Regions from separate parts of the Homo sapiens genome. Here regions 2 and 3 are each linked to region 1. Evidence: fine-mapped expression QTL. Tissue or cell type: esophagus mucosa. Region 1 holds a variant in brackets; each other region holds the start of a gene. All regions are shown on one strand. Distances are between the middles of the regions.

Region 1 (8,109 bases):
ATGTCGCCCCCACTGCAACAACATTAATTCTTTCTTAGATTTAGATATCACCACAGAAAACTGGCGTGAAGACATAAAATGGTGTTAAACAGGAACCAGTAACATAAGCGCAGCCAGTTACTTAGTGGCTTCAAAAAAGTGCAATTATTTTATCTTCTTCCCTGGTTTCTGTGGGTGAGGAATTAGATTGGACGGTTGTAACTCAAAGTCTACCTGTGGTGGATTTGGAACAGCTGGGGGCTGGACTACCTAGGGCCTGGCCCAGCATCCCTTCATCTCTCTCTCTCTCTCTCTGTGTGTAGTCTCAGGGTCTCTCCATTTTCTCTATCTGAGCTAGTTTGGACTTCTTCAGAGAATGACTTCTTAATTAGCAGCCTAAAGCTTAAAGGGTAAGCATTCCAGCAAGCAAGGCAGAATGGAAATTGCCTTTTGTGATTTAGCTTCAGAATTTACAGAGGACATTTCCACCATAGTCCGTTGTTTCAAACAGTCATCAAAGCCTGCCCGATGCCAAGGGGAAGCAACATAGATCCCAGCTTTTGTGAGAAAGGATGTCAAAGTCATATTTATAGAAAAGGTTTGTGAGATAGGAAATGTTTCTGTGATCATCTTTAAAAAACACAATCTGCCAAAGGAGCAGATTAATTTTTTTTAAGAGAAAAGAAGGAATTTTGGGATTCTGCCATTTCCCTGCCAAAGAACAATGTTCCAGATACCTATTCAACTATTGTGGTTTTGCTTAGTTTTTATAGGCATGCTTGTCCAAAGGCATGTTTTAATTATTTTTTATTTGCATGTTGTACATTATTTTTTCCAAAATGCTAAAGTACACTTAGTTATGAAGAGGGGCGAGTTTATTTCTACACTTTATACATATTCACTGTTATATATCTTATATATAACAAGTTTTTGTCCCAGAGATGCTAGGATAATGTAATGCAACCCAAAAGTGATTAAAGCCCAAAGCAGCCTTCTTTAAGCTCAAGTAAATATGAAAGCAAAGGTGATATGGTCATTGAAAACATGGTTCTAGACTCTACCATTTTTATCACTGTCTAGTTCATTGTCTGCAGATAAATGTGACCTAAAACATAATGTTCCCTAGTGGAATACTTCACAGATTTTTTTTTCTTTTTTCTTTGTAATAGAGAAAGAGTCTCACTGTGTTGCCAGTGTTGGTCTGAAACTCCTATCTTCAAGTGATCCTCCTGCCTCGGCCTCCCAAAGCTCTGGAATTACAGGCATGAGCCACCATACCCAGCCCTTGACAGAGTTTAACGAGTGACACTGTCTTGAATCTGATGTTGGTGTTCTGAAGTACAATCCTTCATAACCCTGCCAAAGATATGACAATGTAGCCAGACCCAGGCTAGGTGCTGCCATCAAAAAACATGGTCCTAAAATCAAAGTGTACTTTCCAAATAACTCATGTTAGAAACCTGGACATCTCTAACGCTATGAAGAGGATACGTAGTCCATAGCTGGATTTCTGAGCAATTCTTCTTCCCTTTTTTTCATTCCCTTTGTTTATACCCCAGAATTCTCTCCTCTAAACTTTGAAAAATCCTCCTGATTTGAAACGAATCTATTTTATCTGCCTACCACATCTTTTTTCCTCCAAATTGGGTAGCATAACACTCAAGTAATGGCATACTCCTGCCCCACAGGCTAAAAATACCCAAGTAGACAAAGAATGTTCTTCAGTATGAACATCTGATGTTAATATTTTTTTCCCAAATCATTCTTTCAAGGGCAAGTGTGAGTGAAAAGCACTCACATGGTGAGTGGTGCCATGTCACCATGGCATTTCCTTTATCAAGCAAGTCCATCATTCAAATCCTTAATGGGTAATTGTCAGGGGTGGGAGAAGAACTTCTCATACTTTAGTATGCATATGAATATTACCTGGGAATCTCGTTATATTCTGATCCCATGGGTGTGGGCTGGGCCCCAGAGTCAGCATTCCTAACCAGCCCCCAGTTGGTGTCGAGGCTGCTGGTCTGGGAACTATACTTGGGGTAGCACCAACCTATTTTTAAACTATTATTTTTAGTTATTTAAATTCTAAATTGCTTGTTTTGAACTTTTTCCAGTTTACTGAAGATTTTGGAAGGTATGAGATAAATAAGAAAAGATACAAAGGAAAATCCAGTGATCTCAGCCAGCAAAAGCAATAGGAGTGGAAAGGCCATAGGCCAGTGCTGGGTTGGTGAGTTGCAGGTGGATCTGAGAAGGCAGCAGACGCAATGTCTCACCCTGAAGTTCCAAACCCGCCACTGCCCTCCCCACCCTACTCTGTCCTCCTTCCCCATCTGATTCCTGAACTTCATGCCTCAGAGACCCTCTGGGTACCATTACGGGTAAGTTCAGAGGTGAATTGTTAGTTAATGACTGAGCAGGGTTGGGAGCAGGGAGCTGAGAACTAGAAACAAACAGAGGCTAAAAGTTTGAATGAGATATGTGCGAGTTTCTCTGGGAGGCAGGGTGCAAGGACAGAGGAAGGATTGTCAAGAAGGAAAGGAAAAGCACCCACAGTGAAACCTGAAAGAGGCCCAAAACAAAACTCCCCTGATTTCCTCATTGCCTCAGGGCTGGGCCCCAGGTACATTTATTTCTTTTCTAATTACCTACACCTGAGTGAACATAGACAGGTATTTATATCTCAGTGAGCTGTTTAGGTGTGTTTATTTAGGTTTTATTTATAATCCCAGATTAGGTAATTTCCTTTTAAAAATTATAGGTGGACTGTGATGAGAAAGAGCTTTTATCTGATTGTTAGTAAGATCATAGGCGTAAAGAGAATTTTGCTTTTGAAAACTTACAAGGGCTATTGAGTTTTTCAATTAAACAATGTGGCCCTTCTAAGGTTACTAAAGAGAAACCCACATATTCACAATCAACCTCTAAGGCTGTTGAGGTTTCTCAGTTCTTTGAACCTCGAACACTCTGTGTTCCTAAGCCACTAGAGGTGGAAACAAAATAGAGCCGCTTATCACATTTCTTCTATTCCACACCTCAGTATTGTCATCGTCTCCACTTGCCCTTCAGCGGAGGAGATTAATAGATTTCAACAGGACCTTTTGTGGGCTCAGAGGAGCTGGCTCTGCACTTATTTGCCCTCTTTGTGTGGTTGTAAAGTGTTCTGACCAGATGACTC[G/A]GCATTGCCAGTAAGAACCCAGCCCCATGCCACAGGGACTCTATGGCCAGAAGCACTGCTTCCTCTGCCTTGTTTCTTGAGATCAGTGAAACAGGAATATTTTCTTGCGAAACCCTGATTCAATAACTGGTGGCTCAGAGCCCACAATAAAATCATGGTAACAGTCTATAAACATCAAAACATTAATCCTTTCCAAGTAGGAGCTGACGAGAATAAGCCTAATTGCAGTAATGACCTGAAGTATAGATGCTGCTCTGCATAAACTCTCACTCCCTGGTGGGAATGTTCCCATGGAACTCTGGGACTGTGCCATGCACACACCTAACTCTAATAATACTAAATCTAAACATGGGCATTCCTGCTGGATGAGCGGACTGATAGTCATTAAAGGCCTAAAAGGTAAAAAATTATTACTACTTTAAATCACTTTCCAAAGACTAAGCATTTTTTAAATTGTTAATGATGGCCCCATTCTCTCATTTAATTTCATTTTTAATTTTTAACTTTAAAAAACACTCCAGTTAGATACAAATATTTTAATTTTTATTTATTAGGGACCATATATTTATGCAATATCCATGTTTGCTACCATAGGCACTTGAGCTGTGATGATTTCACTTTGGTAACTTGAAAATGTATATAATAGATTTTTAAAATTAATTTGTAACAGGAATAAAAATTACCACAGTGTGAGAATTCACAAAGCTCCCTCTCCTTCCCCTTTTTCTATCCTCACTCCACAACTGGCACTAGCTTTTAAAGGGGATGAATTTTTGCATCCTGGATCAGCGCCTGGACTTTTCTTTGGAAAAACAAACAAAGAGAATGGATAAAACTGAAAGAAAATGGAAAACATCCCTTCACTATTCTGGTGGGATTGACCCCATCCCCAACTCCAAAGATGGGCCCTAATTTGTTTATCCAAATAATACACATACACACACACACACACACACACACACACACACACACACACACACACACAGCCCACCTTCTGTGGAGGCCTCAGTCGCTATGACAAGATCCAGTGTTGTTTTCTCCATAGTAATGATGACTTTCCTTGTTTTTTGGTTTGTTTGTTTACTAGAAAAATTAATTCCCTGGAACTGAGGACTTTGGTGTCTTTTTCACTCCTATGCCCAGCACCTAGCACAATGGCACAGCATCTGACACATAGTAAATAATCAATATTGCTATTGCAGTAGCTTCCTAACTGGTCAAATTACTTCTGATCCCGCCCCGCCCTCTCAGTGCAGCCCCACCCTCTGCACCTCTGTACCTGTGCAGCAGCTTCCTCTGGCCAGCATGGTGTCCACAGCCCAGAACCTGGCACTAGGAGATTCCTGGAGAAAGTGAGCCTTCTTGTCTGACTGTCCAGAGAGTGAGAGAAAGTGTGGCAAGTATTTTTGTATATAAGCTTCCTAAAAATAACTTGTTATAGAGCCACATGAATACCTGCTTACGAAGCATTTTATCAGCCTCACGAAACATGTGAAAAGGAATTACATAAAATTAGTAAGACAGATCTGAAAAATGTTTTCATTTAAAGTAAAATTCAAGATTTGTTATCTGATAATATTTTGTGATGATTATATATATCTAAAGAAAGATAAATTTCTTTTTGAAACTTATTCTCCCTTTTCTTTCCTCAATAACGTTTAATTTTTTATGTAAGAAGTCCAACATACTTAGAAGTATACACAGAGAATGACTTAATAAAAACTTACATAGCTGCAACTTAGATTTGACAAATATCAATACATTTCTAAACATCTTTATTTAAAAATAAAATTGGATATTTTCACATAATTGAAGTTCATAAAAAGATTTGAGCCACAAAAAAAGAGTTTGAATATTACTGTAACATAAAAGTTTGAAAGATTTTTGTTGAATGATTTTAAATGTTACTGAATCAAATTGATGCAGGTTCTTTGGAAATAAAATAAATTTAGGCAAAATTACTTCATCACAAATACCTGAGTGTTTTAATTTTTGTGTGAATAATATTAAAATGTGACTGAGGTTAATATGCAGCTAGAAATCATACATCTAGGAGATGGATCTGAGGTTCACCTATCTTTTTATAGTGAATTTTGAAATATAGGCAAGCACAGCATAATGATGGTTCCATCAATGACAAAGGGCATATATAGTGGTAATCCTGTAAGACTAGAATACTGTATTTTTACTGTACCTTTTTAATGCTCAGATATGTTTAGATATGTAAATACTTACCATTGGGTTACAATTGTTTACAGTATCCAGTATAGTAACATGCTATACAGGTTTGTAGCCTAGGAGCAGTACCATATTGCTTAGGTGAATAGTGGGTTATACCACCTAGGTTTGTGTAAATACATTCTATTATGTTCACACAATGATGATACTGCCTAATCACACATTTCTCAGGACGTATCTCTGGCATTAAGCAATGCATGACTGTAAAAGGAAATTATGCCTTTTTTTCTCCAAATAGTAATTCTCTTCTAGAACACTATTCCTCCTACTTATGTGTTCTAGTATGTGGGTTGGTATGCCTTGTATGATGTACAACAGGTCTTTCCTAGTTAGGAGAGATATTTAAACAAAGGTAGAAAGAGAATTTTTAAAAAGAATGGAGAAAATTAAAGACCACTTCTTTCTTAATTGAAGGACTATGGTTGTAAAAACTTTTGATCATTTCCCTTCTCTACCCTTGTAAATACATGTGTAATCAAGTACTGACCTTTTGGTACTGGAAACAGGAAACACCTGATGTACAAGGTTATCTTTCCTGTAGAACATGTTGTCAGACGCACAGCTGAATTAAGGGTGGATCAGGCAGGCTGCTGCTTGGGAAACTGTTCTGTAAGAGGGGCTAAGAGAATCGTGGAAATGTCACAAGATGGAGGAACTTGTATATGCCACGTTTCTTCTTAGGGAAAAGGATGGGATACTAAGATGGGGCTAAGACCCGAGAAGGCGATATTTGCATCTGACTTCCAAGAAGAGCAAGCCAGAGGCACAGCCTCTGTGGGCACAGCCGTGCTGAGTGGAATATCCACACCTGGTAGAGCCAAATAGCCTAAGACATGAAAGGGGACACCGAGGGACCCAGAAGTTCCCACTGCACATTGCTCCCACACAGAGCTCAGACTCTCTTCGATATAAATGTACAAATATTGAAAGAATATGGTTTTAAAATAAAATTATCAACCTGCCAGGATGCCCCCAGTCCCCATCTAGGCCTGGTCACAAATCATTCTGACAGCAAAGCTGTGTTCCTCTGCCATCTATCCATGGAAATGGTTGAGTTCTTTAGGGAACTTCACTCTCATGGTCCTATTGTACTGGGACATTGGGCGAATGTTCCACTCTTTATAGATAAAAATTGTAACTGAATGCTTTTCAACGTGTGGACTGGCTGTTAGTAAAGAAGAAAACACTCTTAATTCAGCTACTTCCTTTCCTATATCAACATCTCATTCATTCTGTTTCTCTCTCACAGTGAGGTTGGTCTCAACAACCCTGATGGTGTTTATCAAATTCCTGGGTCTGAAGGGACTTGCCCCAACCCTTATAAACTTTCCCCACCAGGAAAGAAGGAAATACACACAGTTGACTTTGAGGGTTCTTTTTGAGAATTATTTTTTATTATCGCCTATTCAAAAAATTTACCATCAAACCATGTGTTTCAGATAAAGACTAATAATTACTAAACAAGATTATTGTCTGAGAAACCATGACTTATGTGAATTGCTTGTTGTCTTGTTACAATTCTACAACTATATGAGAGCCTCTCTCTGTCATTATTTGCATATGATAATTCCAGAGTTGGACCTAACCCAAGCACAGTGAAAAATCAGCTGTTTCTGACTCTGTTTCCTCATTTGTGATTTAGAATTAATGATAACAAATAGAATTATGTTAAAGGTTGAATAAGATACCATGAAGGTTCTTGTATGCTATAAATTGTTGGTTATGAGTTGGCCCATTGATGGTAAGATTTGTATGTTTTTTCCCATATTAAGTAAGTAATATTACTAATTCTGAAGAAGGTGCTTTGCAAAGTCCTGTTCACTGTAAGGATCTGATTTTGTTGCTACAAACCCTAGGTTGCTTGTTTGGGGTTAGGACCATTATAAAAGAAAATAGGTGTAGACTGTTGGAATCCAGAGTATGATGTATGACAGGGGTGCAAGATTAGAAGTTAGCCCTTGATATTATTTCTATTCCAGTGGCAGGTGGGGTGAGGATTTTTTACTGAAAATTGAAATTCAGCTGCAGCATTGGCTCATGTCATCTTTGCTGTCATTATGTCCCAGAATAGCATCACTTCAGTCAGCTTTACCAAATTAAATCAAGTATCACGGGGTTACAAGCTAAGAAACAACAATGGGTTAAATTTTTAGATTGTCTTTTTGGTTTTTAAGGAAAACATACAAGGTTCCACAATAAAATCATGTTATTAAAAGGATTGCTCTGATAGGATCAAACATATTAAAATCACATATTTCGTAATGTCATTATGTTTGGTCTTTAATCTATCCTAATGAGCTCACTGGGTCTAACAGTTCAGCTTGTTGAGATTTGTGAATTAGAGCTAAGCTTTTACTGACCCTAATTTTTTAGGTTAATAGTAGTTTTTATGAGAGGTGATCACCTGATACATTGTGGGGATAAACGAATCCACTCATTTGGGACTCTGCCATCTGACACCAGTAACTCTTTACAAGAGTTAATTTTTACTCAGATTTTTCTCCAAAATGATATATTAGCCATAGCTTTAACACTGTGTATATCTAATATGCAAGTACATACAATTTTAATGTATATATTAACTATGAAAATATATTTTCTTTCTGCCTTAGAAATAAGCACCTTTTTCTTTGCAATAGTCACCAAAATGCTCATTATCCCAATAGATTTCTTTTGATTAGGCTGAGTGTATGCATTAATTAACCTCACCTGGA
Region 2 (8,091 bases), 340 kb after region 1:
AGCCGTCCAGCTCCCCAGTCAGGTATCCAAGTGATAACACTCTTAAATCTCTAGCTAAGAACTGGGTGAGGGAACAGGGGTAGAGTGCTAACAGCCACCAAAACCATCGAGTTTTTCTGCAGTTATGAAACCAATGACCCAACACATCAAGCTTGGGGTTTCATTCAGGACCAATAACAAGAACTCATTCAAGGATATCCTTTCACAGTACTATTTTGGAGACAGTAAGAAAAAATAAAAGGGATGAGGTCTGTAGAATGTAAATTCGAATCCTCGACATTCCTCTCCAGGGAGGGAACTTGAACCTTGCACCTAAGGACACATTACCCGCAATACTAGGATGAATAAATTAAAATAGAAAACTGTTCCCCTTAAGGAAGAAAGCAGGACAAGAGTCAAGAGGGTGCATGAGCAGGTTTTCTATTAAAAGCACACGGCAACCTGCTGACTAGTGAGGAACCGATCTACAGGGCAAAAGGTACTTAGAACACTCAGGCCCTCCCACCTGGGAACCCAAACACTAGCATCACAAGCAGCAGCAGCAGCAGCAGCAGCAGCAAGGACAGCAGAAGCAAGAGCCAAACACTGCACCCAAGTAGGCTCCCCCATATCAAATTTTAATATAAAGGATGCATATCATAGAAATCTCACAAAGAACCAGAAAGCATAAAGTGTAAGGCACACAGAGGCACACCCCCACACACCCACACAAATGCACACAGAGGAGAGTAGGACATCTAGGAAGGCGACTTTATCCTACCTTCTCAGTTTTCAGTTTCTTGATTCGCCTGTGGCTCTCCTCCTCCTCCTCTTCCTTCTTTACCAACATAGAGTTTCCCATGAGCCCTGAATCCGGGGCACTTTTGCTAACTTCCCCTGCAGCGGCGACGCTGCCACTCCCAGTGCCCCCGCAGTGGAAGGGGCTCGCGCCACCTCCATTGCTCTTGGCCCCAAAGCCATAGAGGTGCCCCCCGGAAGGGGCCTGGCTGCCACTGCCATTCTGGTGGCCCTGAAGCAGGTCGTGCTTGTCCTTCCTGGATTTCCCCGCATCCTTATCCCGCTTGGCGCCTCGGCTGCTCTGGCTTTTACCTGGCTTCTCCTCTTTGCTTTTCCCACAGGAGCCTGCCCCCGCGGTGGCGGCAGAGGTGCTGGTGCTGGTACTATTGCTGTTTGGGTTGCCGCTGCCGCCGCTGCTCACACTTTGACCCAGCGCTGAATTCATGCCAGTTGCCTCTCCAGGGCGCCCTTGGACTTCCTGCCTCTTGCCAGTGCTGCTGATCTCGGGAATCCCATACAAGGCAGCAGAAGGCAGAGATTTATTAGCATCCTTAGAAGTTTTACTCCTTTTCACTTTTGATTTGCTGGTCTCTTTGTGTGAATTCCCCTGGGGAGCAGAGGCCTGAACAGAAGCAAATTTTAGGCCATCAGCTAAGGCTGCGGTAGCACCAGCCCCACTGGAGGCCGGACCTCCACAATCCTTGGAGTTGCTGCTACTAGTGGTGGTGGTGGAATTATTCATCTCAAATTTCTGTCTGTCCTTCTCCAAATCAGCGTCCAAATCAATTATTAAATTTCCAACCCCGATTTCCCAATCATCGCCACTGTCATAAGTATCAACTGTATTTGGATCCACACCTTTTCCTGCAGTAGAAATGTTCACTGACATCCTGAAGATGAGCTCTCTAGAATAAAAATCCGATGAACTTTTCTTTGGAGATGAGGGGACATTCGTTTATCTCCGCTGGGCTTTCTCTCAAAGAAAAAAAAAATCTTCTAATCTTCCTCTTCTTTTTCCTGCCCCACGAATGTGTCCAGGGATTTTACACCCTCAGTCCAGGTCCACCTTTTCCTGTGAAGGGGGGGGGAAAAGTCGAATATTTCTTGTCTGGGTGTTACCAGAATAAAAAACGATTAGTATTGGGGAATCAGTAAAGGGGACAGGGAAGGATGGAGAGTAAGGTGGCTCATGTATTGTCCTCACAGTCCAATATCAGGTTTAAAGGAAAATAACCAAACCCGAAAAATAAACCTATGACAGTAAGCATCTTACGGTAGCTAAAAAGAAAATCCCTTTATCAACAACACAAGGATAATCACCTTTTTAAAAGCATTAAATTATCTTAAGGATCTGATTCAAGTCCAGAAAGGTTTTTGTGTTCTTTTTTAAAGTTTAGGATTTCAGTCTGGCACATGTGATATCTCAACCCCAGAAACACAGCCTGAACACTCAGACAAGAAGGAAGAACACAGCTTTAAACATCCCTAAACATGTCCTAGATCTTGCAATTTAGAAGACCAGACCCTGGAAGTTCTGAGGCTAGTTTTCAGAATAGAATGTTGCTAAATTTTCCTTATTTCTAATTTAGGTTTCAGTACTTCTTTTTACAAATTGTCTGGGCAATCTGTTTTTTGTTCCTAGTAAGGAACAGAAAAAACAACCAATAACTGCCCCCAACACACACACATACCTCCCTCCTATCCTCTTTTCCCAAACAGCTTCTACAATTTCTTTTTTGAAATATGCATGTCTTTTAAGAGCATTTCTCTCTAGAAAAGACAGTGTTATATAAAAAGTTAAATACCTGCCTTTTGAGAAAAAAATACATTTAAACAATTCTACCATATTCCTAGGTCAGAGAATTGCTCACTCTCTTAAATACGGTGCTACTGACTGTACAGAAAACTGATTAAGACATACACTTTAAGTGATCTGCGCCAAGGTGGCCTCAATGACCGCAAATGAGTGTGTTTGACAAAGAGCAGTTAAAACGGTTTTTAAAGGGATCAGCCCCTTTTTAACAGTTGATTGTCAAGAAAAAAATAAATAAATATACATACACACACACATACACACACACAGACATTGCTTACCTTTTAATCCTTTATCATTTTTTAATTAGGCCAGCAAATCAAAATGCCTTTCCCACTCCACTCGGCAAACAAGCCTGTGCCTCATTTTACTTAAACACCAAATGATCAAGAAGGAAGAAACCAAATAACACATCTCAGCCAGAATAATCACTCGATAACATTATTCCACCTCCCCACCCCCCTTTTGGCAAACGAATCAGTCCTTTTCTCCTTAAAAAAAATGTGTCACTGTACAGCTGGAAAATAATGTTTCACATTCACAACAGAAGCACCAAAGGTTTTTTTTTCCTCTTAACAAGCATCGAGAATAATAGTTTTTTAAAAAACAGAGAGTTTAGAGAAAAAAGTTTTCCCAACTTCTCATTCCGCCTTCAGTTCCAGACTTCAGAGTCACCGTGATCAGTAATGATCCCATGTAGCAAACCTACAGGCGTCCGCTAGTAACGAGACAGAATGTGCTAACATCGGGATAAATTAGTGAAAGGGAAGAAAGAATAAGAAGAAAGGACTGAAAATCTGGGCTGGATTCCGCCTGTTAGTCGGGAAGTGGCATTTTTCCGCCCGTCCTGACAGATTTGATTTCTTGAACTAACTTAAGAGAAAAGGAGGGGGGGAGTAGAGGGAGGAGGAGGAGAAGAAAGGGTGGGATGAGAAACTGGGCAAGAGGAGAAAAAGAAAGGTGTGGAGGAGGAGACAGCAGATGATTCAGTGAGCTGATAAACCAGTTATAACAGCATTCGCTCGGGGCGGGGGGCGGGGGGCTTGGGGCGGTGGGGTGGGGAAAATAACGGCGTTTAAAATGGGCTCAGTCTTCGAAACCTAAAGGATGTGATGTTTTCCTGTCTTATGTTGTTTTAAGAAAAAGGAACTGAGTTCCTAGTATAGCTCCCGAGGGGAGTGGAATCCTCTGTCGCTCAGGTCAGCCAGTCATGTGGTAATTCGATAATTAGAGTCAAAATAAGGTTTTTGTTTTCTTTTTTTTTTTTTTTAAGGCGACCCTTTTCGGGAGTTTTTCCCTCTTATACTCGCAGCAAACGGTGTGTCTCCCTTTTATTTATTTTTTCTCTCCTCTCCCTTCGCCCAGCCCCTCCTGTGTTTAGTCAGATGGCCCCGGAGCTTGGCTTAGTATTTTTAATTAGCTGGCGTTTGGAAGCTAAAAGCAGTAATGAATTGTTGATGGATTGGAAGTGGAGAGTCGCTTTGCTGGAAATGTCGGGGCTGGGAGAGGGGGATGGGCGAGTTAGTAACAACCAACCATCTAAAAGGAGCGATTTTGTTACAGTGCAAGCCTTTCACATCACGTGAGGATCAAGGGCTCAATTGGTTGTCGTGAGAACAAAAATGGTGACAAGCGTATCAAGAAAATACTGATCTGGTCTTTAAAAAAAAAAAAGCTGAAAGTCTCTCCCCTCCCCCTGCACACACTCCCCCAACCTCCTCCCCCCGCCCCCCCGCAGTGGGCGAAGCTACAAGTTATGAATGTGAAACATTTCTCGGAGATCTAGGATCTCCGAAGTTCGGAAGGAGCGAAATGTAATGAGCACAAGAGCAAAGCAGATGTTTTAAAGAAACACTTTATAAACCTTTCCTCAACTTATCTCCAATTTGTCGGCTTTCCCAAGGGGCCAGGGACGGGGACGCCTGGGGGAGGGAGAAGGGTATCTCCGAGCTACTTGGATTTTAGGGACCCCCACTTCATGTATTAAACAAAGAAAAACCTTTTGCTTGCTCCCCAGCCTGGTCCTGTAATAAATACACCATTGTTACTATTTGTGGGTTTGTTTGGGTTGGGTGGGGCTTTTATTTTTTCTCTTAATGGTATTTTTGTTGCTTGCTTTTTTAAGGAGATGGCGAATGGTAATTATAACCATTACATGTAATGAGTGACTATTCCCTTGTTTAATATTAAATTATCGGGCACTGGGATCTGACAGGAGACAGAAATCGGCTTGTTCTGCCCTTGCCCCCATTTTCCTGGATCGCTTTGGGAGGGGGGTCTGCCCAGCTAGGACAGAAGAGGGAGGGAGTAAGGTGAGCTAGAGAATTGACACTGCAGACCAGGATATGCAACTGTGTCACTTTTATTCTCCTTTGGGTTAGAGCCCAAAAGCTAATTTCCTCTAAGTTACCCCGAGTGCCCAGTCAAGCTTAATTTGTGTGAAGTTACAAATGCTTCACCCTCCACTGAATAAAATTCACCCTTCTTGGGTTGTTGTTCTAAATGCAAAAGCCAAACCCTGTAACTAGTTCCTCATTTCTATGCATAAAACTCGCACATTCCCCTGCATGAAGTCCCCGCTAAGTGCTATATAGAGACACACCACGCAACCGTACTTACGGTCTGTATTGGATCGAGTTGACCTTTTCCTTCTAACTGCATTGAATGTGTTTGGTTGCAGCCGCTTTATTTTGGAAATTATAATCTCTTCAACAAATTTATTATTAAAGAAGATGGACCATCAAATGTCACAGACCGTCCTGTGTATTTTTTATAAAAGCAAAAATTAAAATTTAAAAAAAGCAAAACAAAAATCCCCCTGGTGCACACACACAACAAGCTTGTTCTGCAACACTAAATCAGGACTGAAACACAACACACACACAGGGGGAGTGGAGCAAAAGAAGCTCTCAGCCTCTATACCTGAAAGGGACTTTTCTTTGTTCCCAGTGCCCTTTCGCATCGGGCCAATCAGAGAGCAGCTTTTATGAAACTGGGCTCTCTCATTGGCTAGCTGCTTTCTCTTGGCTACTGTAGGGGGTTGAGATATACACACGTATAAAACACACACTGAGAGCGGGTGGGGGTGCTGTGGGGGGTGGTTGTGGAGACAAAGCGTTTTATTTTCCAACCAGATTGGGGTTGAGGAACCTCCCGCAGTAAGAAGGCAAAAAAATGGTGCGCCCCTTTCAATTACTACATCATTCACATAAAACACTTATTTATTAAAACAAATCTCAAACAGGCTGCGAGGAGAGGATGTCGGTAAATACAAGTTTGATTGTGTTATCTTGGGGGAAATAATGTATGTGATCGCTCGGTGGCAGAGAGAAGCCAAACGAGCCGCTAGCGCGTAGCGAAGAGAAAAGGGAGGCTGGCTGTGTGGAACTGACTGCGAGCATTTTGCCGGCTTCCCTTCCTTGTTCCAAGGACTTCGCAGCCCAACTCCCAAGACTGATTTTCTGTATTGCAGCTTCTGGCTTTCAACCCTCCCCCCACCACTTTGCCCTTCCTGCAGTTTTTTTTTTTTTTCTTCCCTGTGTCTCTCTTTTTACTCGCTGATTAAATAAGAAAAATCGATCTGCGGGTAAAGGCGATGGTGGGGAAACAAGTAACCCTTTTGTTTCCAGGGCTCTGGTCTACAGGCACTGAAGTGTGAACGCAGGCGACCATTTAACCAACACTATGTGAATGGTTCTTCCCTGGAATTAGTAACAAATCTTTTCCACCTGGTGTTATGTGACTCCAAAAAAGAAAAACTTAATATTAAAATAAGGCCCCAGCTAAACATAGTAACACCTCGGGCCAGCCTCATCTTTTAAAAAATCGACTTATGAAAGTTAAATGTACTAGGAAGATTAACTGTTAAACAGTCCCAGTACACGTATTTAAACTGTGGAAGGGTCAGAATTCCTCTTCCCCCATATCTTTAACCCCACTGGTGGGGAAGGGGGCATCATGAATCCTCTGAATGCTACATCTACAATCCACAAACACAGAAATATTTTAGAATTTATTGTAGGACAAATGCCAGCAACCAAGTTAATGAGACTCAGCTCATAGGATAAGAGAGGTTAATATGAAATAACAAGTTTAACATTTTACTATAACAGCTAACATATTTAAGCTAATGTATTTACATATATTAAGCCTTTAGAGTACATTTAATTTTTAATTTTTTATTGTTACCTTCATTGTTTTTAGAAGCTACAATATGGACATTTGAAAGTCAAAGGTTACTGTAAACTGAAAGCATCATGATCCCAAGTTTTAAAGATCCAGTACTACTGGGATTGTAATTTCCACGTGACAATTGTAATTTAAGGTTGTGTCTTAACTGAGTCATATGGACATGTAAAGTGAATGAGTGCTAGCAGAAGACAGCTTCTGATGTAAATATTCAGTGATGACTTCGTGGATCAATAAAAATATTTATGTCACATATTTTAAATAATGGCTATTGACTCATGTTTGAGCTTTCAATATATTTAGTCCATAAAAAAATTGCCAATTAGCTGTTTCACTACCATAAATGAACTAGATTTGAGGCTGCAAATAGTAATAAACAGCAGTTTCCACCCTTTATTGGGACATATAAACCAGAGGAATGCAATCTGTACTAGTCCTTAGCTCTCCCTAAGTCAATTTGTATTCAAATCAAAGCTGTACTTTAACAAATAAAATGGGCAAATTAGGGATCTGATATCTACCTAGCCTCCATTTTAGCTTTGAGATTTGTTTTATATTTTTGAATATACAGATTTTACATTTGTGTATGCCCCATTGATAAGAATACAGCACCATACTGTTTTTTAACTTTTCTTCTTCTAAAAGAGTGATTTCTCAAAGGATCAGATCACTCTTGGGCACTTCCTGTGTCCCTGGGGTGTCATCTACATCTCAGCCTTTGGAAGCCCATGCCTACCCCATATGTTATATTAGTTTGGAAATAATATATAGGTAGTTCTTAAAAGAATGGGACATTTAAAAATGAGACCTAGTGAAGCTGGAGAAGATTGGAGTTCCTCCAATACAAAACAAATTACAGCGTCTGCAGCACAGATGAAGTCTAACTAAAACCAAAGTTTAGGGTTTGTAATAATCAAATAATCTAATCTAACCCGAGCTTCAACACTTAAACCCAAACCTTAAACCTTTCTGAGAAACCCTACTGGCCCAAGATGAAGGCTTAGGCCCGACTCTACCACATATTTAACCCAAACCATTTTGATAAATTAAAGTATTTCCTTCCATTCCAACATCTCCACACTCCATTTACACCCCACCCCCACCTCCTTCCTCCCAGGTTCTTCCAGGAGACTTTTGAATAAACCAGTGTTGTCAGACTGGCTTTTCTTGTGTTTGTTTTGTTTTGTTTTGTTTGACAAAGGGGCCAATCAAAAGGCATCAGAGGACCATCAGCTAATTGATGACTGAAACTAAGACAATTAACTACCAGTTTTGAAAATCAGAGCTACTCCTCTCACAAAATTGGGAAGTTT
Region 3 (8,091 bases), 35 kb after region 1:
CAATGGAACAGAATAGAGAGCCCAGAAAAAAGCCCACATGTATACTACAGTCAACTAATTTTTGATAAAGGCATCAAGAATATACAATAGGGAAAGGATGATCTCTTCAATAAATGGCATTGGGAAAACTGGATATGCATATGCAAAAGAATAAAATTGGAATCTTACTTTATACCATACACAGAGGTTAACTCAAAATGAATTGAAGACCTATACACAAGATCTGAAACTACAAAACTAGAAGAAAACATATAGAAAACTATAAAAATAGAAGAAAACTTTTGTTCCTTGAAATTTTTCTTGGCAATTTTTTTTTACTTATCACTCAAAGCACAGGCAACAAAAGCAAAAACAAACACGTATAACTATATCAAATTAAAAATTTCTGCGCAGCAAAAGGAACAATCAACAAAATGAAAAGGCATCCTATGGAATGTGAGAAAATATGTGAACACTGTATGTCCAATGAAAGGTTAATATCAAAAATATATAAGAAACTCTTACAACTCAATACCATACAAATGAACAAACAAACCAACAAAATAACCCAAGTGAAAAATGGGTAAAAGGGCTGCATAGAAAATTTTCCAAAGAAGATATACAAATGACCAACAGGTACATGAAGAGATGCCCAACATCACTAATCATCAAGGAAATGCAAATCAAAACCACAGTGAGATATTGCCTCACACCTGTTAGGTTGGCTATTATCAAAAAGTCAAAGATAATGAGGGTTGGGAAAGATGTGAAGAAAAGGGAACACTTATCTACTGTTGGTGAGACTATAAATTGGTACAGCCCTATGAAAATAGTATGGAGTTTCCTCAAAAAATTAAAAATAGAACTACCATACGATCTAGCAATCCCTCTTCTGGGTATATATCCAAAGGAAATAAAATCACTATCTCAAAAAGATAGCTCTACTCCCACATTCCCCCTTGCAGCAATATTCATAATAACCAAAATAAGGAAATAATCTAAGTGTCCTACAACACACTGATAAGGTTTGACTGTGTGTCCCCACCCAAATCTCATCTCGAATTGTAATCCCCGTAATCTCCACCTCAAAGGAGGGACCTGGTGGAAGGTGACTGGATCGTGGGGGTGGTTTTCCCCATGCCGTTCTCATGATAGTGAGTGAGTTCTCATGAGAGCTGATGGTTTTATAAGTGTTTGACAGTTCCTCCTTCACACTTGCACACACTCCCTCCTGCAGCCTTGTGAAGAAGTTGCCTGTTTCCCCTTCAATTTCTGCCATGATTATAAGTTTTCTGAGGCCTCCTAGTCATGCTTCCCATTAAGCCAGTGGAACTGTGAGTCAATTAAACCTCTTTCCTTTATAATTCCTAGTCTCAGGTAGTATTCTTTATATCAGTGTGAGAATGGACGAATACACACAATTGAATATTATTATTGAGCCTTAAAAATGAAGGCTATCTGGCCGGACATGGTGGCTCATGACTATAATTCCAGCACTTTGGGAGGCCAAGGTAGTCAGATCCCTTGAGCCTGAGAACTCAAGACCAGCCTGGACAACATAGCAAAACCCTGTCTCTACAAAAAAAAAAAAAAAAGCAAGAAAATTACCTGCGTGCAGTGGCATGTGCCTGTAGTCCCAGCTACCACGGAGGCTGAGGCGGGAGGACTACTTCAGCCCAGGAGGTCAAGGATGCAGTGACCTGTGATCCCACCACTGCCCTCCAACCTGAGTGACAATGTGAGATCCTATCTTAAAAAAAAAAAAGGAGAAAGAAATCGAAATCTTGCCATTTGCAATAACATGGATGAAGTTAGAGGACATTACGCTAAATGAAATAAGCCAGATAAATAAACATAAATACTGCATAGTCTCATGTACATGTGGAATCTTTAAAAAAAAGTCAAATACATAGAAACAGAGAGTAAAATGGTGATGACCAGGGGCTGAGTCATGGAAAAAAAAGGGGAAATATTATTCAAAGGGTACAAACTTTCTTTTTTTTTTTTTTTAAAGAGCCAAGGTCTTGCTGTGTCACCCAGGCTGGAGTGCAGTGGGGTAATCATAGTTCACTTCAGCCTTGAACTCCTGGGGTCAAGAGATCTTCCTACCTCAGCCTCCTGAGTAGCTGAGACTACTGGTGCACACCACCATACCTGGATAGTTTTTTTAATTTTTGTAAGGATGGGATGTCATTGTTACCCACGCTGGTCTCAAACTCCTGGTCTCAAGTGACCCTCCCACCTCAGCCTCCCAAAGTGCCGGGATTACAGGCATGAGCCACCACACTCAGCCAAACTTTAAGTTCTCAAATAAATAAGTTCAGGTTTAATGTCCAGCTTGGTGACCATAATTAGTAATAATGTATTGTGTACTTGAAATTTGCTAAGAGAGTAGATCTTAAGTGTTCTCACCAGGGAAACAGAGGTAACCACGTGAGGTGATGGATGTTAGCTTGATTGTGGTAATAATTTCACAGTATATATCAAAATATCATGTTGTAAAAAATATATACAATTTTTATGTGTTAATCATACCTCAATAAAGGGTGCGGGGGAGGATATTGCCTCCAAATCAGGGTCTATTCACACATTTCCCCTGAGGAGATTCCCTCCAGCCTGGCCAGCTCACTGTTCAGCCCCGGGTGCTGCCCCTGAGGATGCAGCTTCTGGGGATGGCTGAGGATGGCTGGCTACACTGGAGGCAGGAGGCTGATGGTTCAGTGATGTCTTTGATCCCTACATCTATATTACTGCATTGTTCCACTCACTGGAATAAGAACTTTGATTCCTATTTAAACCAGGGCTTTAGAGGATATTTAAAAGAAATAATGGGAATTCCCAACATGGAAACATTACTTTTTACTGAAAGCACAGTTCACAGACAGGGGGATAAAAGGAAGTTAGATCTGATTCCTGAGTGTCCTACCTATTTACATTTTGGAATCCAGTAATGTAAGTACATTTATGCTTGTGTTTAAAATATGAGCATAGAAACAACACCTAGAAAACACATGTATTTAAATCTAAGTTGAAGATAAGATGGAATTTATTGGAGGGCAACAGCAGTGACCAAAAAAAAAAAAGCAAGAGACCAATTCAACACATTAGACCTGGTCAAATAACTACCTCACGCGCAGCTACAATTACCTGAACGCCAACAACAAAATGCTGTGACGATTCAGTCTTCATCATAATTACTCATCTTCTATAGACGATACAGTCTTAAAGCATAGGAAAGAATGTATGTACAAAGAAGCACGGAAAATGACACGGTGTAGAAGATGATGACTACTCCAGTGAATGCCATAGGTGGAGCCAATTTTCTAACTGGAGTAAAATGAACTAAATTCAGAATCAAATTGAAATGTAGAGGAATATTTATTTTTCTCACCTTAATGCTTTCCTTTAAGCAGGTTTAGTTTTCATTCATTTCACTGATCTAAGGTTAATAAATTCATTATTTCAGCACCCTATGAAGAAGAAACACATCTTTTTTTTTAATTATTCTTCCTCAATAAAAGCATATCTGGAATCCTATTTTCTGAGTGAGCTGGCACACGGGGTGGGGGAGGGGAAAACTGGGAGTGTGTTGGGGAAAGCGAGGGCAGGAGGGATGACAAATCTGACCCTACCCGACAGTGCTGCCTGTCCTGTAGCATCCCAACCCTTACAGTGGTCACCCATGTGTAGTTAATCAGATTAAAAGCCTCTGAGAAACCCCTTTGAATCTCTGTCAAACAAAGACATGGAATAAACAAGAAAAAGCAGGAAGGTTATAATGCTGCACGTGGGTTAGTAATAGAAGCAAATGCAAACGCCCAGGTACCTCAGAGACTTACCCGTACCTGTCAGGGGTCTGAAAGATTTCCTGTGGCCCTGGCAGTCTGGATTTAAGGCAGGCTTAGGGGAATTAGTAAACAAAACACAGCTGAGGGTCTTTTGCCATAAACTGAACAACCAAGGAAATGAAAGTAAGGCCACGGCAAAGTTGTCTCAGCGGTGTCACTGGCTGCCATGGGGCAGCCCTGCGGTGGAAGGGCCTGACCGGCCCGGGCCAGGGTGACATCTCGGGATGTGATCTGAGCCGTCCTTGTGTGCAGATCCATGTGTTTGGAGAACAGGGTCTGTCTGTTATGTGAACACAGAGGGCATTGAGCCCAAAGCCTCATATACATTAAAAATATAATGAGAGAGATTTTTATCTTCCATGAATATTTAATTCTTCTGAAAGCCAACCATCTGCATATCACAATGCCCCGATGCATGTGTGTGATTTTCTCTGTTGTCTTTCAAAATAAAGCAGACCATTTCACTCTTCCTGTGATGCCTTGAAAGTTGCTTAAATGTGCATTGATCACTTTGATCTAATGAGTGTGTGTATTTTAAAACAAAGTCAGCACTGTTGCTCTAATCTATTTGTGTGAAGGAAACAGAACAATGGGGGGAAACCAGGTCGGGTTTCATCGTTTTCCTGGTGGCCTGTATCACAATTCACTGCCGTTTTGAATGCTGTTTAATTTTTGCTGATGTCTTTTTATCTTAGGCTTCATGTGAATTTAAAAAGAGTTTCATTGATATGCAACCTACTGTGTATTATGATATCCTGCCTGCCCTGTTGCACTGTGGAAGCCTGCAGCTGCCTGAAGCCTAATTATGCATGCATGCATGCCAAGCCCAGATGCTCGGCCAAGAGTGCCTCAACCGACTACAGTTTCTCACTTGTTTTTGTTTGAATTATAATTGGGCAGATCTATATTTCTCAACCCATCTTGTAGCTTCAGCATGCTCCTCTTTGCCTCTGTTGCTACCTCTGCTTGAGTCAGCTTCTTCATGAAGGAGTCCCTTGCCAATCTGAAGTGCCTCTGAGATCTGAGAAGGGTCATTCATGGGTTTGACAAATCCTTTTACCTACACCGCATTTTAAAAGGTACAAAAATGACCCTAGCCCCAATCAGATTTCCTCCAGATGGTTGGTAGCTTAAAAAAAAAAAAAAAAGAATAGTTAACTAGAAGCTGGCATCTGGGTAGAAACAAAGAAGGCTTAGAGCCAGGCATCTACAATGGAGAGGAATATCAGAACTAAAGCTTTACACCTGCTGAAGGAAGGTAATGGAGACTAGCAAAAACAGATTTGTTAAGCATGTGCATTCACTATTCAGAGAGCCTTTTGTGAACTGTTTTCCAGGCTACCTACGGGACCTCAGTCTTCAAGAATAACAAAGCCTCATCTGAGAGTGTGAAACTGGGTATGGCATCGCACTAAATGTGGTGTTACTCTGAGTCACCCTTCATCTGGAGATGTACACATAGAGTAACCCTCTCATATAGGATGGCAGCTGCTAGTTATAGTACTTATTTCTTTTTTTTACAACTTTAAAAAATTTCTTGAGATGTGATTTCACTATGCTGCCCAGGCTGGCCTCAAACTCCTGGCCTCGGGAGCTCCCAAGTAACTGGAACTACAGGCACACACCACCATGCCAGGCCATACGGTATTTATTTCTGAGGTACTATCAGAGACACTGTATTGTTTTTTAAATGGAGCATCAAATTAAGCACACAGATTAATTTCATTGAAAATCGTGGGATATTTTTTGATCCTGAAGCTTAAAAAAAAGTGGTGAAATTATATTGAAGCTTCAAGAGTAAGCAGGAATTTATAATAAGATAATTCTCCATGACAATCTTAAGACATAAAATCATTGGGTGAGCATTTGTCATTCAATTAGACTACTTCTGTTTGAAGAGTAATTCTTAACAACTAACATTTTCATCCAACATGCTGGTAAAGAAACAATTTTTCTGACATTTGTTAAAATGGCTAGGTAGACTTTATTCAGGGCTATTGTGATAAAAGTAGATACTGCTGCAATACAGTTTTGTAGTAGGGGAGAGAGATTGGGCTCAACATTGAATATAAGGAAAAGTGAAGATTTATAGTGAGGTGGGACACTGAATGGAAAATTGCTAAGAAGAAATATCATGGGAAGAGGGGATTCTGCCTAAAATGATTCTGGCTAATCTGACCTAACAAGATTCTTGCTGATAGCAGGCCAAAGTGGTCAGACGTCAGCTGGCAGATGGTGGACAATGAGGAATTTGATCAGATAGTGTGTGTCATCCATTACCAAGGGGAGAGGTTCTCTCTAAACTAACTTTTCAAGATTCTTGCTAAAACCGGATTCTACAAGGCTAGAGACAGAAGCCTACGGTCAGGTCCGGTCTAGCAAAGGCATCAGTATAACCTGACTAGAGATTGGTCAAGGAGAAAATCTTTGTCAACACCTTACTACTCATGTTATAGTGCCATTATAATTACTTGAAGTTGATACTATTACTATTTCCATTTTACAGATAAGAACATTGAGACCTTGACACTTTCCCAAAACCAATCGCTTCTATGTTGGCAGAAATGAGATTTGAACGCACATTGTCTCAGTCCAAAATTCATGTGCCTAGCAGCGATTATATTTTGCCTACCTAAGAGGAACATTTGACTCAAATACTGTTTTCAGCACACAAACTCTGTTTCTCAGATGTAAATAATACTGACATTTATCTAGTGCCTACTCAGTGCCAAACACTGAGTGCTTTACAACTCCTGTATGAGGTAAATGTATGCATTAGCCAATTTTCTAAATGAGCTCTCCACTCTTAACCATTCTGCTAATAGTTTCCAACTTTAGCTAAAACATAGATGGCTGAGCTCTCTCCCTAGTGTTTTGGATTCAGTAGGTCTGGGTTCAAGCCCAAGAACTTGCTTTGTAATACATGATGTTGATCCTGCTGGTCTGGGGACCATACTTTAGAACCACTACTCTATGCTGTACTAATATTACCAATATATAATTGGTATAATTAATTATCCCAGGTCCTTCACCTGCATGCTATACATTTCTAATCCTATTAAGGGAGAGGAAAATTGAGTTCCAAAAAGTCAAGTAAATGGTGTGGCATCACACTGATGGTAGGCAGGAGAGCCAGGACCCAAATACAGAGCTGACTTCCAATACCCAAGCTCTTCCCAAGACCACCCGGGGTTCCAGGCTGGGTGGTCTTCCAAACTGACTAGTCATAGAGTAAACCCAGGATGTGTCTTACACTAAATGGTAACATAATACAGTGCACATTAATAATTAATATAATTCCCTGGAATATGAGGAGGAGTGTCATTGTCTTAATAAATTGCTTGGAAAACAAAATGTTTTGGGCATGTTGGCAATGTGTGAAATAACTAGTGCTGGGGCTTAGAAAAATGATACCTCAAAGCCTGGCACTTGGACATGCTGAGTACTTTCAACTAAAGAAGCAACCTCAGCACCAAGGTGACCTCCTGCCTTCCTGTCTATTGCCCCTCTGCTCCTCCAGAAGCACAGGGAAGGGTTTCCTTTGAAATTCTCCTATCTGACTAACAATGTTCCTCCAGAAGGAATGCAGTTGTCTTGGACCTCCTCCCTATAATCTCATCAAACCGGGAAGATTAACTAGAAGGAAAGAAGACTAGAATTGACATCACACCCAGAGCCCAGAGGAACTTTGTCCCAGATTATTGTCTTTTCTTCAGGTCCATTCATCCACCTAAAAATCCTTTACTCTTTCTCTAAAATTGCCTACATCTCTGTGTTAGTCTGTTTTCATGCTGCCGATAAAGACATACCCAAGATTGGGTAATTTATAAAGAAAAAGAGGTTTAATGGAATCACAGTTCCATGTAGCTAGGGGAAGCCTCACAATCATGGTGAAAGGTGAAAGGCACATCTTACATGAAGATGAAAGAGAACGAGAGCCAAGAGAAAGGAGAACCGCCTTATAAAACCATCAGATCTCATGAGACTTATCCACTACCAAGAGAACAGTAGGGGGGAAACTGCCCGCATCATCCAATTATCTCCCACTGGTTCCCTCCCACAACACATGGGAATTATGGGAGCTACAATTCAAGATGAGATTTGGGTGGGAACACAGCCAAACCATATCAATCTCCTGTTTCCCTGTCCCTCATGAAGAGGGCATTCAAGCTTCAGTCATCTTGCCCTTCATACTTTGTGTGACTCCTGTGCCCTTGCACGTTAACAAATTTGTATGCCTTTTCTCATGCTAATCTATCTATTG

Direction of the effects. Alleles are on the strand shown, and positions count from the first base shown. SD is a standard deviation of normalised expression in the study named.
In carriers of allele A in region 1, the expression in esophagus mucosa of the gene that starts at base 3,316 in region 2 tends to be higher than with G alone (moderate effect, 0.43 SD a copy in GTEx).
As copies of A replace G in region 1, the expression in esophagus mucosa of the gene that starts at base 3,950 in region 3 goes up (moderate effect, 0.68 SD a copy in GTEx).

Evidence for each region. PIP is the estimated chance that this variant, and not a neighbour inherited with it, causes the effect.
Region 2: it holds the start of ZNF608, and the variant in region 1 is fine-mapped to the expression of ZNF608 in esophagus mucosa (GTEx, PIP above 0.99).
Region 3: it holds the start of LINC01170, and the variant in region 1 is fine-mapped to the expression of LINC01170 in esophagus mucosa (GTEx, PIP above 0.99). The same link has a PIP of 0.9 or more in atrial appendage.

What each region holds. Positions count from the first base shown.
Region 1 is chr5:124,399,072-124,407,180 of GRCh38, forward strand. The region is part of intron 3 of LINC01170 (long intergenic non-protein coding RNA 1170); the gene reads right to left. LOC105379155 (a long non-coding RNA gene) reads left to right here and starts at 4,439. Exons shown (of 3, transcript XR_001742872.2): 1 at 4,439-4,509. RefSeq lists an enhancer at 3,073-3,242 and a cis regulatory region at 3,158. The variant G/A (reference allele first, on the strand shown) is at 3,158.
Region 2 is chr5:124,743,324-124,751,414 of GRCh38, forward strand. It overlaps ZNF608 (zinc finger protein 608), which reads right to left and starts at 3,316. Exons shown (of 10, transcript NM_020747.3): 1 at 2,872-3,316; 2 at 761-1,849. The coding sequence starts at 1,666. RefSeq lists enhancers at 168-217, 608-687, 748-817, 915-1,608, 1,448-1,517 and 4 more and a silencer at 5,434-5,673.
Region 3 is chr5:124,434,571-124,442,661 of GRCh38, forward strand. It overlaps LINC01170 (long intergenic non-protein coding RNA 1170), which reads right to left and starts at 3,950. Exons shown (of 6, transcript NR_125774.1): 1 at 3,825-3,950; 2 at 3,127-3,306; 3 at 1,588-1,725. RefSeq lists an enhancer at 7,727-8,091.